2 linked regions of the Homo sapiens genome follow. The protein of the gene in region 2 purifies or fractionates together with the protein of the main gene of each other region. This does not show direct contact. Each region holds a gene or a part of one and is shown on either strand. Other genes may lie near its edges.

Region 1 (8,638 bases), on a different chromosome or scaffold from region 2:
CACATATACTTAACTTTGAATTAATAGCTTTGTCAGAAAGTAATTTTATAACCTGGAAAAGTTACTTAACCTCTTGGAATTTAGTTTCTTTAAATGTAAAATGTGGATAGTACCTCCTTCATGAAATTATTGGATTAATTGAAATGATATATAAAACACCTAAAACAGACCAGGTGCGGTGGCTCATGCCTGTAATTCCAACACTTTGGGAGGCTGAGGCAGGTGGATCACTTGAGGTCAGAAGTTCAAGGCCAGCCCAGCCAACATGGTGAAACCCTGTCTCTACTAGCCAGGCGTGGTGGCACACACCTGTAATTCCAGCTACTTGGGAGGATGGGGCAGGAGAACCACTTGAACCTGGGAGATAGAGATTGCAGTCAGCTGAGTTCGCACTGTTTCACTCCAGCCTGGGCGACAGAGCGAGACTCCATCTAAAAAAAAAAGAAAGGCACCTGAAACAATACCTGACACATATTAGAACTCCATACATGTTCATTTCCTTCCTGCTCCGCTCCTTACTTTGGCAATGTATCTGTTATGGCATTGAGTTATTTCATTAGAGGCTTTACAGAGAAGAGCTTTACCCCCCAGCAATTTAGAGTCTGTTTTGGATTACAAATTAGGTAAGTGTTTCCATATCACAAGGGCTTTCACAAAATTCTCAGATTATTAAAGTTTAATTTATTTAATAGTAACCCAAAATAGTTCTTTTGGGGCCTGTCCTTAATAATAATGACAATAATAATGCTACCTGTTGTGTAGCACTTTTTAAGGCAGATGAATAATATGTATTTCATTTAAGTTGTTTAGCAACTCAGTGGACTGTGAAGAACAAATACAATTTCAGTTTTATGGATGAGGTAACAGGCCAATGAAATAGGACACTGGGATTGTGTAAACATCTCCAAATCAGACTACACTAATAGGTCAGTCACTTTAAAAAATACTTAGAATTCTATGGGTTAGGTGTACGTGTCAATCTAAATGTATAGAAAGATTTCCTCAATGGAGCAGACAATGTTAAGCACTTTATAAATCAAAGAGCTGTTACTGTTGCATGGCACAGGCAGAGTTATGTCTATTATGTGATAAATCACAGTGGTTGTTCCAGTATTCACATTTGGGGATGACAGCTATAGCTTTGTGGCACACAGCAGCAGGTTGATTTCACCAAGCTGTTGATAGGGAAATGAAACAAGCTTTAAATATGTACTATGTGTCCATCTGTACTCTCCATGATAAATAATCCCCTTTTTACTATTCCTTTGTGTGAACTTCTGTCCTTTCAATGATGCCTTTTGTCTTTATTTTTCTTGAATAAAATTATTACTCAGGGACTCTGGAAGAACTGATTGTGATTTTCCTCTAGGGATTTAAAGATAGCCCTACATGTAGGTTACTGTTTAATCAAATCAGTATAGGTCATTCTTAAAACTACTGAGTTAAGGAGGAGCAGATTGTTTATCCTAGGAAGTTATTCTGCCTATGTGAGTATATAAAATGCGAATTTCAGTCAATTTGGGCTATAAGGTCTGGAGAAGAACTCTTCTTAGTTATGAAAATGTTAGCATTAATTTTAATAATGAATTTATGTGTTTATTGTTGTTTTTTTTCAACCTTTGTCAAGGAGTGGATTTTTTGTCTTTTTTTTGAAGGTGGTCTTAGATTAACTTCTGTAAAATTTGTTTCGTATTTAAGTCTTTTTTTTTTTTTTTTTTTTTGAGACGGAGTCTTGCTCTGTCACCAGGCTGGAGGGCAGTGGCGCAGTCTTGGCTCACTGCAACTTCAGTCTCCTGGGTTCAAGTGATTCTCGTGTCTCAGCCTCCCAAGTAGCTGGGATTACAGGCACACGCCACCATGCCTGGCTAATTTTTGTATTTTTAGTAGAGATGGGGTTTCACCATGTTGGCCAGGCTGGTCTTGAACTCCTGACGTTGTGATCCGCCTGCCTCGGCCTCCCAGAGTGCTGGGATTACAGGCGTGAGCTGCCATACCCAGACCGTATTTGAGTCTTGAAGAAAGCATTCTTTCTTATTGGTCTTAACTAAAGGGTCTTTTATATTAAAAAATTAGAAACAATTGTAAGATATTTTAGAGGCTACAGAGTAGTCTTGTTACCAGTCCATGTCATACTTCAATATTTGTACAAAAAGACGGTACATGTAATCTAAAAGAGTAGGTATTGCCAAGTAAATTGTATTTGGATTTGATATACTAATATTATTTTAATTGTTAATAAGAAAAAGAACCTTATGGCCAGGGATAGGAGGAAGGGGATTTAATAAAGAATGAGAGTTATTACATTGGATTGAAATAGGTTATCAAAAGCTTAGAGACGATACCAGGAAAATTCTCTTTGGGTTATATTAGTAAAGTTTGTAGGAATAAGCTGGGCACAGTGGCAGGGCACTTGTAATCCTAGCTACTTGGGAGGCTAAGGTGGGAGATTGCTTGAGTCCAGGAGTTTGAGCCTTGCCTGGGCAACAGAGAGACTCTGTCCCTTTCTTTTTTTTTTTTTTTTTTGAGACAGAGTCTTGCTCTGTTGCCCAGGCTGGATTGCAGTAGTGTCATCTCGGCTCACTGTAACCTCCGCCTCTTGGGTTCAAGCGATTCTTTTGCCTCAGCCTCCTGAGTAGCTGGGATTACAGGCATGCGCCAGCACGCCCAGCTAATTTTTGTATTTTTAGTAGAGATGGGGTTTCACCATATTGGCCAGGCTGGTCTTGAACTCCTGACCTCAAGTGATCCACCTACCTCGGCCTCCCAAAGTGTTGGGATTACAGGCCTGAGCCACCGCTCCTGGCAAAGACTCTCTTAAAGAAAAAAAAAAAAAAAAAAAAAAAAAAAAGAATTGGTAGGGGTAACTGGATATAAGGTGGTGGACTATTTACAGGATACCATAAGCCATAAGCTCATGGTCCATAGTTGATATGTATTAGAAGTAGAAGATTAGTGGAAACAATTAATTAATTTTGAACATAAATGAAGCATACAAAAGGGAAATTTGGCATACTTAGAAGTGTCATCAAAGAGACTTAAAAAAAATAAAGGGACTGGGTGTGGTGGCTCACGCCTGTAATCCTAACACTTTGGGAGGCCGAGGTGGGCAGATTGCCTGAGCTCAGGAGTTCGAGACCAGCCTGGGCAACGTGGAGAAACCCCGTCTCTACTAAAATACAAAAAATTAGCCAGGCGTGGTAGTGGGCGCCTGTAGTCCCAGCTACTCTTGGGAGGGTGAGGCAGGAGGATTGCTTGAACCTGGGAGGCAGAAGTTGCAGTGAGCCAAGATTGTGCTACTGTACTCCAGCCTGGGTGACAAAGTGAGACTCCGTCTCCAAATAAATAAATAAATAAATAAATAAGTAAAGGTTGGCTGGGCACAGTGGCTCATGCCTGTAATCCCAGCACTTTGGGAGGCTGAGGTGGGCGGATCACGAGGTCAGAACTTCGAGACCAGCCTGACCAACATGGTGAAACCCCGTCTCTACTAAAAATAGAAAAATTAGCCGGGTGTGGTGGCACACGCCTGTAATTTCAGCTACTCAGGAGGCTGAGGCAGGAGAATCACTTGAACCTGGGAGGCGGAGGTTGCAGTGAGCTGAGACTGTGCCACTGCATTCCAGTCTGGGCGACAGAGCGAGACTCTCTCTCAAAATAAAGTAAATAAATAAAGGTTGTGGCTTATGAGTGAGGTCATTAGGACCACAACAAGGAATTTAGCAGTGGTATAAAGCAACAAAGCAAATTTTGCTATAGGTCCATCATTCTCTACTTAAAAATTGAAAATAAAAGCCTGGCTCAGTAGCTTACGCTTGTAATCCCAGCACTTTGGGAGGCCAAGGCAGGAGGATTGCTTGTGCCCAGGAGTTTGAGATTAGCCTGGGCAACATAGTGAGACCCTGTCTCTACAAATAATGAAAAAATTAGCTGGGGATAGTGGCATGTGCCTGTGGTCCCAATCCTCAGGAGGCTGATGCAGGAGGATCACCTGAGCCAGGGAAGTCGAGGCTGCAGCGAGCCATGATCACACCACTGGGCTCCAGTTTGGGTGACAGAGTGAGACCCTGTCTTAAAAAAATGCAAATAAAACACTGTTTCAGAGTTAGTGTTTATAATAAAATGTTTTCCCTCTGATTATCATCTGCAATCTATTACTTTATGACTATACTGTTATTCACAACGTTTTAAATATTCCTGATGATAATGAAAAGAAGCTTATTTATAAACCAATACCAAATGGTTAGGAATTCACTTTTACTAAATGAATGCCTTTTTCTTTCTCTTGCTAGTGCCGAAAACATTTGAAGAGTCGGAGATTAGTCAGTGCAAAACAGCTTGGTGTGGATAGAATTGTAGATTTTCAATTTGGAAGTGATGAAGCTGCTTACCATTTAATCATTGAGCTCTATGATAGGGTAAGTTAAATTTGTGGGATATGGTGAAGGAAAATTTCTTATTAATCATTTTGTAATAGTGCTATATAACATGAGTGGGGGAACATTTTTTTTCTGTGTCAAAGGTTGTTACTACCCTAGGAAATGGGTGCCACACAAATAAAATAAAATTTTCCAGTAATAACCTTCATTTTATCTGTAGGTCTGAGTTTAGGCAGACTTTAGCCATTTAGAATAGCCTTATGAATGTAGGAGATGAAGATCTGAGAAGTAAATTATTTGGTACTTGACATTTCAGGACTAATATGCAACCAGAAAATAGTCAAATACGGTCATGCACTGATGCGCTGTATGTATAGTGATGTTTCAGTCAACAACAGACTGCATATAAACGTTGGTCCTGTAACATTGTAATGGATCTAATAAATTCTTACTGCTTAGTGACATCTTGATCCTGACTCTGTGTAGGCCTAGGCTGGTGTGTGAGTTTGTGTGTTAGTTTTTAACAAAAACATTAAAAGTAAAAACAAAACAATTTAAAATGGAAAAAAAGCTTAGAGAATATGGATCTAAAGAAAGAAAGTATTGTACAGCTGTACGATATGTGTTTTAAGCTAAGTGTTATTACAAGAGTCAAAAAGCTAAAAAGTTTAAAGTTTATAAAGTAAAAAAGTTCCAGGAAGCAAAGGTTAATTTATTATTGAAGAAAGAAAAACATCTTAAAAATAAATTTGGCTGAGCGCAATGACTCAGGCCGGGCACAGTGGCTCACACCTGTAATCCTAGCATTTTGGGAGGCCGAGGAGGGCGGATCACCTGGGGTCAGATCACCTGGGGTCAGGAGTTCAAGACCAGCCTGGCCAACATGGCAAAACCCCGTCTCTATTAAAAAATACAAAAATTAGCTGGGCGTGGTGGCGGGCACCTATAATCCCAGCTACTCGGGAGGCTGAGGCAGGAGAATCACTTGAACCTGGGAGGCAGAGGTTCCAGTGAGCTCAGATTGTGTCACTGTGCTCCAGCCTGGGCAACGGAGCAAGACTTTGTCTCAAAAATAAACTAACTAACTAACTAACTAACTAACTTAATCTGGGCCAGGTGTGGTGGCTCACACCTGTAATCCCAGCACTTTGGGAGGCCAAGGCGAGTGGATCACCTGAGGTCAGGAGTTTGAGACCAGCCTGCCCAATGTGGCAAAACTGCATCTCTACTAAAAATACAAAAATTAGCCTGGTGTGGTGGTGCGTGCCTGTAGTCCCAGCTACTCGGGAGGCTGAGGCAGGAGAATCACTTGAACCTGGGAGGCAGTGGTTGCAGTGAGCTGAGATCATGCCATTGTACTCCAGCTCAGGTGACAGAGTGAGATTCAGTCTCAAAAAGGAAAAAAAAAATATATGTGTGTGTGTGTGTGTGTGTGTGTGTGCGCGCGCGTGCGCGTGCGTGTGTATGTATATAAATAAATAAATACATAAATTTAATCTGGTCTGAGGTAAGCATAATTTTTTTAAAAATTAAAAAATAAAAAACAAATTTAGTGTAGCCCAAGTGTGCAGTATTTATCAAGTCTACAGTAGTATGCAGTAATGTCCCAGGCCTTCACATTTACTCACTGTCACTCACCCAGAGCAGTTTTCAGTCCTGCATGCTCCATTCATGGTAAGTGCCCTATACAGGTGTTCCATTTTTAATCTTTTATACCAGGGATCTTCAACCCCTGTGCCGCAGACTGGAACTGGTCTGTGGAACCAGGCCACACGGCAGGAGGTGAGCAGTATGCGAGTGAGCATTACTCACCTGAGCTCTGCCTCCTGTCAGATCAGTGGTGGCATTAGATTCTTATAGGAGCGTGAACCCTATTGTGAACTGTGCATGCAAGGGATCTAGGTTGCATGCTTCTTGCGAGAATCTAATGCCTGATGATCTGAGGTGGAACAGTTTCATCCGGAAACCATACCCCTGCACCCCCCATCCATGGAAAAATTGTCTTCCATGAAACTGGTCCCTGGTGCCAAAGGCTGGGGACTGCGGTTTTTTTTTTGTTTTGTTTTGGTTTTTTTTTTTTGATACAGAGTCTCACTTTGTTGCCCAGGCTGCAGTGCAAGGGTGTGATCTCAGCTCACTGCAACCTCTGCCTCCCGGGTTCAAGCAATCCTAGTGCCTCAGCCTCCTGAGTAGCTGGTATTACTGGCATGTACTACCATGCCCAGCTAATTTTTGTATTTTTAGTAGAGATGGGGTTTCACCATATTGGCCAGACTGTTCTCAAACTCCTGACCTCAGGTGATCTGCTCGCCTTGGCCTCCCAAAATGCTGGGATCACAGGCATGAGCCACTGCGCCCGGCCTGGAACTGTTGTTGTAATACCATATTTTTACTGTACTTTTTCTATATTTAGATGTACTTAGATACACAAATACTTGCTATTGTATTACAGTTGACTACAGTATTCAGTAACATGCTATACAGATTCCTAGCCTAGGAGCAATAGGTTATATCATATCTTTGGTGGATGTATTAGGCTACACCGTCTAGGTTTGTGTAAGTATACTCTATTACGTTCACACGACATCGAAGTTGCCTAAATGCATTTCTTAGAATGTATCCCCATTGTTAAGCAATGCATGACATTGGGTCTGCCTTCTTTTATGCAATATTTTTTATTTTTTTGAGATAGAGTCTTGCTCTGTTGGCCAGGCTGGAATTCAGTGGCATGATCAGGGCTTACTGCAAACTCGGCCTCCTGGGCTCAAGTGACCCTCTTGCCTTAGCCTTTCATGTAGCTGGTACCACAGATGTGCACCACCATGCCTGGCCAATTTTTTTATTTTTTGTAGAGACAGACTCTCACTTCGTTGCCCAGGCTGACCTTGGACCCCTGGCTCAAGCAATCTTCCCATCTCAACCTCCTAAGGTGTTGGGATTACGGGGGTGAGCCACCACGCCTGGCTCTTTTATTCAATATATAATGTCTGTGAGATTCATTGATGTTGAAAATTCCCTTAGCTCCACATCCTTAGCAACATTTGATATGATCTCTTAGAGCTCTTTATCTAATCTGATTATGAGCCCTTTGCTGATTATTTGTGTAGTAAATGTCCTTTTCTACTCTAACCTGAGTTTTTACTCTTTCTTTTTTTTTATTTTTTAATTTTTTTTGAGAATAAGTCTCACCCTGTCGCCAGGCTGGAGTGCAGTGGTGTGATCTTGGCTCACTGCAACCTCCGCCTCCCGGGTTCAAGCGATTCTCCTGCCTTAGCCTCCCGAGTAGCTGGGATTACAGGCACCTGCCACCACGCCCAGCTAGTTTTTGTACTCTTAGTAAAACAGGGATTCACCATGTTGGCCAGTCTGGTCTTGAACTCCTGACCTCAGATAATCTGCCCACCTTGGCCTCCCAAAGTGCTGGGATTACAGGCGTGAGCCACTGCGCCTGGCCTGCTACTAGTTTTTCAGCACTTAGTAATTTCTGGTTATCTATCTCTCTAACCAACGTAAATGGTGGCTACATTTACTGAAGCCACTTACATTGCAACCTGTCATTTCAGATGAATTTGGGATTACTCCCACCGTATTCTGTGACTATCTTGTAAACAGTTGTAAGGCATTTTTGACTGTTTTCATGGATGCTTCTTTGTATTTTAATTATACCTGTAGAGTAACTCTGATCTTCACTGTCAGTAATAAATTTGGAAGGTGGTATTCTTTCGTTAGCTTTATTTTCATTATGTTCCCCCTTCTTTTTTATTGAAAAGGTTATCTAGCAATATTAAATTTTAAAAAGTCTTTAATTCTAAATCTTTAAGAAGTAATTTCATTTTAGCCTACATATGCCTTCCATTTTCTAGGATATAACTTTTTTGTGTGTCTTTGCTATGTTTTACCTAACATTATTTATGTTTTCCTTTTTTTCTAACATTGTTTCCATTAGGTAACCTCTTTCTACTATTTTGTTGTGTTGAGCTATCATAATTTAATTTCCCTAACTTTTACATTTAGGCTGTTTGGGGTTTTTTTTTTCTATTGTAGATAAATTTCAGTGAACATCTTTTTTTTTTGAGACGGAGTTTCGCTCTTGTTGCCCAGGCTGGAGTGCAATGGCGTGATCTCGGCTCACAGCAACCTCCGCCTCCCAGGTTCAAGCCATTCTCCTGCCTCAGCCTCCTGAGTAGCTGGGATTACAGGCATGCGCCACCATGCCTGGCTAATTTTGTATTTTTAGTAGAGACGGGGTTTCTCCATGTTGG
Region 2 (8,638 bases):
TCGGGAGGCCGAGGCGGGTGGATCACCTGAGGTCGTGAGTTCGAGACTAGCTTGACCAACATGGTGAAACCCCATCTCTATAAAAAATACAAAAAAATTAGCCAGGTGTAGTGGTGCATGCCTATAATCCCAGCTACTCGAGAGGCTTAGGCATGAGAATCATTTGAACCCAGAAGCTGGAGGTTGCAGTGAGCTGAGACTGCGCCACTGCAATCCAGCCTGGGTGACAGAGTGAGACTCTGTCTCAAAAAAAAAACAAAAACAAAAAGTCACATTGAAATCATCTGATTACTTATGAGTGAAACAAATCCTTAACATGAGTTACAATGAAACAATACAACTTACTGCGGGTCACTGAGTGTATCAGGTGTTTCTTTTATAAGATGATCCTGCAGCACCTACAAAGGGGGGAAATACCAAAGCCTTTGGTTTTACTGAACTGTCAATGGTGAACAGACAGAGCCTAGTTAAATAAAATCCACTTTTTAAAAATCCCCATAAACATCATCTTACCTAAGAGCAGAATCAAATAGCAAAACTGAAAGGTTTGAATTTTACCAATTTTCCTTTTCCTATCAATTCCCAAGGTTAGCTGCTTTAGATACTTCTTCCCCACGCACCTATAAATACTCCTGACCACTTGTTCCTCCATTTCTCTTTCACACAGCAATGAAGTGAATGTGAATCTGGGAGATAAATTAGGCTCTGCTTTCCTCTCCCCTCTTTCTGTAAGCCTGCTTGCCCACAAAGAACACCATACATTGTGCTCTGCTCCATCACAGAGGAAGGTATGAGGTTTTCAAATATACGGAAGTCTGTTTCCTCCTGGGGTGCAGTGCAAGGGAGTCCACTGTTCCAGTAACTGCTTTATCAGCAATAACAATAACTAACACTTATTGAGCTTTTGCATGTGCCAGGTATTGCTTTGAGCACATTTTAGGCATTAACTAAATCAATCCTCAGAACTCCATGAAGTACAAGTTAATTCCTGCTTTATAGATTATGAAATGAAGGCACAGAAACTTGCCCAAGGTCACACACCTAGTTGCTAGCTGATGGCAGAGTGGGACTAGAACCAATGGTGTGACCCAGAGCCCATGTCTTATAGACAGTATGATATACTATCTATAATGCTGACATTTTGATTTTCATTTGCCTAACTCCTCTCTAATACATGGGTTTGGAACTGGAGACAGTTCAATGCCAACAGCTGTAATGAACTGTAACATAGCCAACTAAAGGGAAAATAAAATGGAAGAAATAACCCAATGTTCAATGATTAGTTATCCATCCATGACAAAGCCAAGAACAAATTTATTTTCTAAAGCCTATGAAGAGCCAAACTAGTTGTCTCAAAATCCATTTCCTAAAGCTCTTAGCGTCCAAACTCATGACACTTCACTCTTGTAACGTTTATAACTTGGCATTTTAAATCAACCAATGATTCTTATGCTACAGATGGGTTAGAAAACTCCATTTGAGCATATGATTAAAGCTACAAACCCTCTCTCTAGAAAAACACGCTTGGTACACCTGAGAAATGAAGAATGGAAGAACCTAAATGAGGTACTACAATCAAGTTATGTGTTGGGGAGTGCTGGGTGAAGAGATTAGATAGGGAAGCAGGGACCAGATCATGCAGAGCCTTGTATGTCAAGACAAGAAATTTGAACTTAAAAGTGTAATGGAGAGCCACAGGAAGGATGGCTAATTGAAAGGAGGAAGGAAAGCAGGGGGAGAGGGTCAGATGGAAATGTTTAAGTAGGGTTATACACAGGGTGTTGTGGAAACACAGGAGTACTAAATAAGGGAATAAATGCAAGCATAGATTTTTTAAAAAATTATCAATTCCCTCCTCACTTCTACTTCATCTACTTTTATTTCTCAATATAATTCTAACAACTTTGTTGTCTGGTTTTTCTAGTCCATATATTGGGAATAGAAAATGAAGGGGGAAGAAATGAGACACTACTAGAAACAGACACACTGAAAGCCACAAACAGGTATGGCTGGTAACTTTTTATGAGAAAGTTATGGCAAAAGTGTTAGCCCAGTGTGGAGAAACTTTATCTGAAAATGGGAGTATAAATTTGTTTGGCCTTTTGAAGGGCCATTTATCATTATAAAAAATTTTAATGTTCTTATTCTTTGGCCCAACATATGCTTACTAGAAGTTCTAGTAAGTATCACTCCCACAAGGGTATGAAGAGATCTACTCAAGAATGTTTACTGAAATAGCATTTGTTATGATAAAAATTGGAAAAAAATCCAAATGTATATTAATCTAAAAAGTTAAATAAACTACAGTACATCCATGTATAGTAATACCAGAGAGCCAATAAAAAGAAAAAGACACTAAGTTAGATCTGTATATATATATATATTGATATGGAAACACGAGAGAAAATAATTTTAGATTTATTTTTAGATATATTACTTGTTTAGATTACATAAAACATCTACTTTTTAAAAATATAATAAAGACTTCAAAATTAAAATGGAAAATTTAAATACTGTAGAAAGATCCAATCCAAAATGTTAATCTTGTTAAAGATCCAAAATGGTTATTTAACTAAACAGAATTTTAAAAAGGCAACCTTCAGTTGGAAATACTCTACTTACTCATTCCCCTACAATCCCAAGTAAAAGAGCTGTCATTATGCTTATAACCCTTAAATACTTAAAAAAAAAAAATAGATTCAGAATGATTCCAGAACTTACACTTGTAATTTCATCCTTACAAAATGCTATGGCTTCAGGTTGCTTGCTTGGAGGAAAAGCCGCTTCAAATGCATCTTTTGCTGCAAACGCAGCTGGTGTGTAAGTATCACACTGAGCCATTAGCCAATATCCCATTAAACTTTTTAAGTAGGGAGCCAACTGTTTCTTTACTTTAAGGATAAGTTTTTCAAAAGCTTGTTGTGTGGCTTCTCGGACGCGACGGTCATGATCCTATTAAAAATATAAATGTGATTTAAAATAGCTCTAGCCCATAAAAACAATCACAGACATTTCCGGATATGCTATAATGACCCATTACCAAGAATTCACCTATGTATTAAGCTAAACTGAAATCATTTTTTTTAAATCAATAATTTGGAGGTTTTTAAATCAGAAACTATGTAAAATAATTTATTAATTTTTCTTTCTCCCCTTCTCCCAATGAGATAGGATTGTATTCAAGACAGATTCAAAGTTGGGCCTTGAGGCCGAGCCTGGTGGCTCGTGCCTATAATCTCAGTACTTTCGGTGGCCGAGGCAGGCGGATTATTGGCGGTCAGGAGTTCAAGACCAGCCTGGCCAACATGGTGAAACCCCGTCTCTACTAAAAATACAAAAAATTAGCGGGGCATGGTGGCACACACCTGTAATCCCAGTTACTCAGGAGGCTAAGGCAGGAGAATCACTTGAACCCAGGAGACAAGGTTGCAGTGAACAGAGATCGCGCCACTGCACTCCAGCCTGGGTGACAGAATGAGACTCCGTCTCAATTAAAAAAAAAAAAAAAAAAGTTGGGTCTTCAATAATTAAGCAACTCACTCTCATTCTTCTGCAGCAAATATACAGGGAATAAAATCACTATCAAAATTTATTAAAACTGGAAAGCACCTGGGTAATTCTCCAGTAACAACCTAATTTCTGAAAACAGACTTCCTAAATGTTCTTCATAACCCAACACAATCCAATCTTTTTTTTTTTTTTTTTTAAAGACATTGTCTTGTTCTATTGTCCAGGCTGGAGTGCAGTGGTGCAATCTTGGCTCACTGCAACCTCCGCCCCACCGGGTTCAAGCGATTTTCCTGCCTCAGCCTCCCAAGTAGCTGGGATTACAGGCATCCATCACCACACCCGGCTAATTTTTGTATTTTTAGTAGAGACAGGGTTTCACCATGTTGGCCAGGCTGGTCTCAAACTCCTGACCTCAAGTGATCTGCCCACCTCAGCCTCCCAAAGTGCTGGGATTACAGGCATGAGCCACCATACCAGGCCCCAATCTCTTTTTTTATTTCCACGCTCTTCTCAAGTGTTAACAATTCAATCTGCATAACAATGCTGACATAACATTTAATAACCCTCACCAAAAATCAACATTATAAATTTGAGAGTCTCCATGACTCCAACCAAAAAATATACAACAGAAATAAACTAGCAAAGTTTTAATACTTACAAGTGAAATTTTGCAAAAAATTCTTGGCCAATATGGAAGAACTCCTTTCACAGTTTCTGTGTCTCTCTCTGTACACATGGTTCCAAATTCCTGCATAGCCTAAAAGTAAGTTATTAACATCATTAGGATTAACAACCATAATAACTGGCTATAGATTATTCTGTTCTGGAAGCTTTGTCTATTTTATGTAATAGGAGAATACACTATTTCTCTTTATGCCATATGAGACTAGTTTGAAGAGCTCTTTCACAGGCTACTACGGTAGAAACTCTTCAGTTGTTTTTTTAAAAATAAAACATCTACAAACAAAAAAACCTCATTTAAAGTTACAAGGTCAAAGTTACATTCCCTAATGGGAAAAACTATACAGCCAAAATTCCAAAGCACTTTAAAAAAGTTCACTGTAACAAACTAATTTACGACCTAGAAAATAAATATCAACTAAGTTTAAGACTCTGTGTCAGAAAAAAGTACAATTATAAAAGAACTTAGCAATAAATTGTTCATTTTTCTTTACATAAAACATGCTAATGACATTTTATTTTAACAAAGGGATTTTCTTGATAATTTTTATGAAAACAAGAAAACTTGCTTTTAATTTTGTGGTGACATCTTTCTTTGAAAGTTTCCGCAGCACCATTCGGAAATCAGAATCTACAAGACTGTCAATTTCTTCAGCTCCTTGAATAGCAGGAACATAGCCTAGGTCACTCTGAGATGTTCCAAAACCAATAAATCCAGGCACTGTTCCCTGTTCTTTGGCAAGGAGTTCTGCAGCTCGGCCACTGTTTGAAGGCTGATAAGAAAATTACGGAGAAAAAAGTCAGAGTCCAGGAAGGGTTCAAAACTTAACTTTATAATTCCTTGGCTATTCCCATGGTCAGAATGAGCTTTTATTTTATTTTCTTTTTTCCTAGCCTAAAATTTCATCTATTGCAAAGTTCCCCAAAGATTAATGGTTTTGTTGCCAAGAATCCATCAATACTGATCCTAGAAATTATTCTGTTTCTTAAACATTAGAATGTTTTGTAAACCATGGATACAATCCATTAGTGGCTCATGATATCAATATAATGGACCATGACAGAATTTTAAAGAAATTGATTAAAATTTTTAAAATCAGAATGTATCACATGCAGGAAAATTTTCATAAATGCTGTTATGAATTTTTTATTTCTAACTTTCATATAAATAGTATGTATACACATATGTATACTATGTAATGATGTAAAATGAACTCATAAATAGAACCCATCCTTTCATTCACCCATTAAATGAACAAATATTTATTAAACAATCACAATGGCCCAGGTCTAATGATAGCTGCCTCTAGACTGAGAGTTCCTTGAGAGTGGATACACTCATTTCCACACACTCCAAAGCCTAGCCTAACCTCTTTGGGCTAAAATTACATTATTATAGCCATAAAAATCAATACAACAGTCAATCTATAATACAGACTCCTTTGTTTTGAATCATAGTCAGTGGTTTCTTTGACTGATACACAATATAGTAGTCTTCTACTAAAAGGAGGTGAGTTGATACAGAGAAAGAAAATATTTGAACTGCTAAAAGAAATTAACTTATTGTTATCTAAACAGAAAATGCTTCAGTTTGACCACCAAGCTGACATCACAACCCATCTAAAGTCATCTATTTCTTATTTCTCTATAAGGATGTTTGCCAACGGTTATCCAAATGTGTGATTCAAATTGCTCATACCGGCCGGGCACAGTGGCTCACGCCTGTAATCTCAGCACTTTGGAAGGCCAAGGCGGGCAGATCACGAGGTCAGGAGTTCGAGACCAGCCTGGCCAACATGGTGAAACCCCATCTCTACCAAAGATACAAAAAATTAACTGGGCGTGGTGGCGCACGCCTGTAATCCCAGCTACTCGGGAGGCTGAGGCAAGAGAATCGCTTGAACCGGAAGGCAGAGGTTGCAATGAGCCAAGATTGTGCCATTGCACTCCAGCCTGGGTGACAGGGCGAGACTCTGTCTCAAAAAAAAAAAAAAACAACAAAAAAAAACAAATTGCTCATACCGGCCAGGCAAGGTGGCTCATGCCTGTAATCCCAACACTTTGGGAGGTCAAGGCGGGTGGATCACTTGAGCCCTGAAGTTCGAAACCAGCCTCGGCAACATGGCAAAACCCTGTCTCTACCAAAAACACAAAAATTAGCCAGGCGTGGTGGCATGTGCCTGTAATCCCACCTACTCAGGAGGGTGAGTCATGAGAATTGCTTGAACCTGGGAGGCTGAGGTTGCAGTGAGTCAAGATTGTGCTACTGCACTCCACCCAGGGCAACAGAGCGAGGCTCTGTCTCAAAAAAAAAAAAAAAATTCCTAATACCTAGCAAAAGTGTGTTTGGAAAATTCATCTGACAAGGAATAATCTGGCCTACTTCCTAAACTGAACTGAGTGAACAGGAAAGAAAATGATGGCCTGCATTACATTTGTTTTCAATCTGTAGCATTTAAGACTAATTCCAAAAAAGGTTCTCTATTTTTTTTTTTAAGTGAAAGTAAGTTTATTAAGAAAATAGGTCAGGCGCGGTGGTTCACGTCTGTAATCCCAGCACTTCGGGAGGCTGAGGAGGGAGATCACCTGAGATCAGGAGTTCAAGACCAGCCTGGCCAACATGGTGAAACGCCGTCTCTACTAAAAATACAAAATTAGCCAGGCATGGTGGCACATGCCTTTAATCCCAGCTACTTGGGAGGCTGAGGCAGGAGAATTGCTTGAACCCAGGGGGCAGAGATTGCAGTGAGTCGAGATTGCGCCATTGCACTCCAGCCTGGGCAAAAAGAGCGAAACTCCATTTCAAAAAAAAAAAAGAAAAGAATAAAAGAATGGCTACTCCATAGGCAAAGCAGCTGTTCTCTATTTTTTAAGTTTATTAAAATGAATTAATATTAATTATTCAATTCACCTTTCTCAATATTGGTACATGAATAAAGAGCCACAAAGGAAGTAGTTAGTGAATTATAATTCTTAAACTAAATATGATGACTTTAGGGTATCAGAATTTTCTACAATCTCATGTGTAAACGGTTTTATTATGAAACAGAATAAAAAACTAATTATTGCTAACATCTAAAGGAGTTGAGGCTGAAATAACAGAATTAGGAGTGATAACTAGGGGCAAAAGAGAAGGTATCAAATTTCCAGTCTCCAATTTAAAAGTAACAAGTTACTTTTAAATGCACTATCTTTTTTTAATGTCTACTTTAAATTTAAAATATAGTTACTCTTATGATCTTTGTATGTTAAGTGCTATACCCATAGTTCAATAAAAATTAAGAAACAATTCTATTTATGGCACTTATTTTTTTTTTTGTACTATGCCTACTTCTGTCTACACTCTTTCATGCCTAGCTTCTAGAGTTATTTGTGGTGGCAATCCTGAGTCTACAAAGACCAAACCAAGGAAGACTTACAAGACCTTTCACCATCTAACCTCAACTTTTCCCAGTCTTATCTCCTGCCACTCTTTCCTTCCCTTGCCCCACTTCCTTCTCCCTTCTTCAAATTATGCTGCCATCATTCATGCCCTAGTAGCAAACTGAATTCGAAGTTCTCTGAGGCAGGGCATGGTGGCTCACACCTGTAATCCCAGCACTTTAGGAGGCTGAGCGTATCTTTGGGCAGATCACTTCAGGCCAAGAGTTTGAGACCAGCCTAGCCAACATGGCAAAACCCTGTATCTATTAAAAATACAAAAAATTAGCCGGGTGTGATGGTGCATGCCTGTAATCCCAGCTACTCGAGAGGCTGAGGCAACAAAACTGCTTGAACCTGGGAGGTGGAGGTTGCAGTGACCCGAGACTCTGTCTCAAAAAAAAAAAAAAAGTTATCTATGTGATGGCCTTTCACAATTTGATCTTTATATAACCTTTTTTCTCTACCTGAAAACGCTTCCTTTCTTTTCACTGTCTGACAAACTCCTACTCATCTTTCAAACTCATGTTTGCAACACTTGCCTTCCTCCATTCTCTTCCATTCTCCCACATTCTTTCTTCTAATACCTGCATCATAATTCTTTAACATTTGCTTACATATGTGTCTGTATCATCAAACTAATAGTTCAAGAACAGCAGACATCTATTATCTCTGAATACCTGACATCCAGTATCAGAGTCTTCTATTGAAGACTTTGCCACATTAAAGTTAAAATCCCAACTCCACAACTTCCTGGCTACATGAGCTTAGGCAAGCTAATTTCTCTAAACCTCAGTTTCACCACATTTAAAATGAGATATGAGTAATTAATTCATTAGTTGGGTTGTTTTCATGATTAAGCATAAGTTTTTAAATCACCATAGTAATAACTGATTCCAGCAAGAATCAAAGGGTGCTCAAACCATTAGGTGAAAGTTTGTGGAAGAGCAGGACATTCACAGTTTCAAACTAACATATTATTTGTTATTGGCCAATGGAAAAATATAACTTTATAATGAACAACACC

What was found. Proteins that work in one complex are often made in the same cells at the same time.
Region 1: the proteins of LTN1 (region 2) and NEMF purify together in Homo sapiens (affinity purification with western blotting; 2 studies listed by BioGRID, with this or other methods). This does not show direct contact.

The regions. Positions count from the first base shown.
Region 1 is NC_000014.9:49,841,917-49,850,554, reverse strand, and holds part of NEMF (ribosome quality control complex subunit NEMF), read left to right. Parts: intron 1-4,289; coding exon 4,290-4,415; intron 4,416-8,638. UniProt on the Homo sapiens protein: Key component of the ribosome quality control complex (RQC), a ribosome-associated complex that mediates the extraction of incompletely synthesized nascent chains from stalled ribosomes as well as their ubiquitin-mediated proteasomal degradation.
Region 2 is NC_000021.9:28,981,971-28,990,608, forward strand, and holds part of LTN1 (E3 ubiquitin-protein ligase listerin), read right to left. Parts: intron 4,965-8,638; coding exon 4,761-4,964; intron 4,268-4,760; coding exon 4,169-4,267; intron 2,953-4,168; coding exon 2,722-2,952; intron 399-2,721; coding exon 346-398; intron 1-345.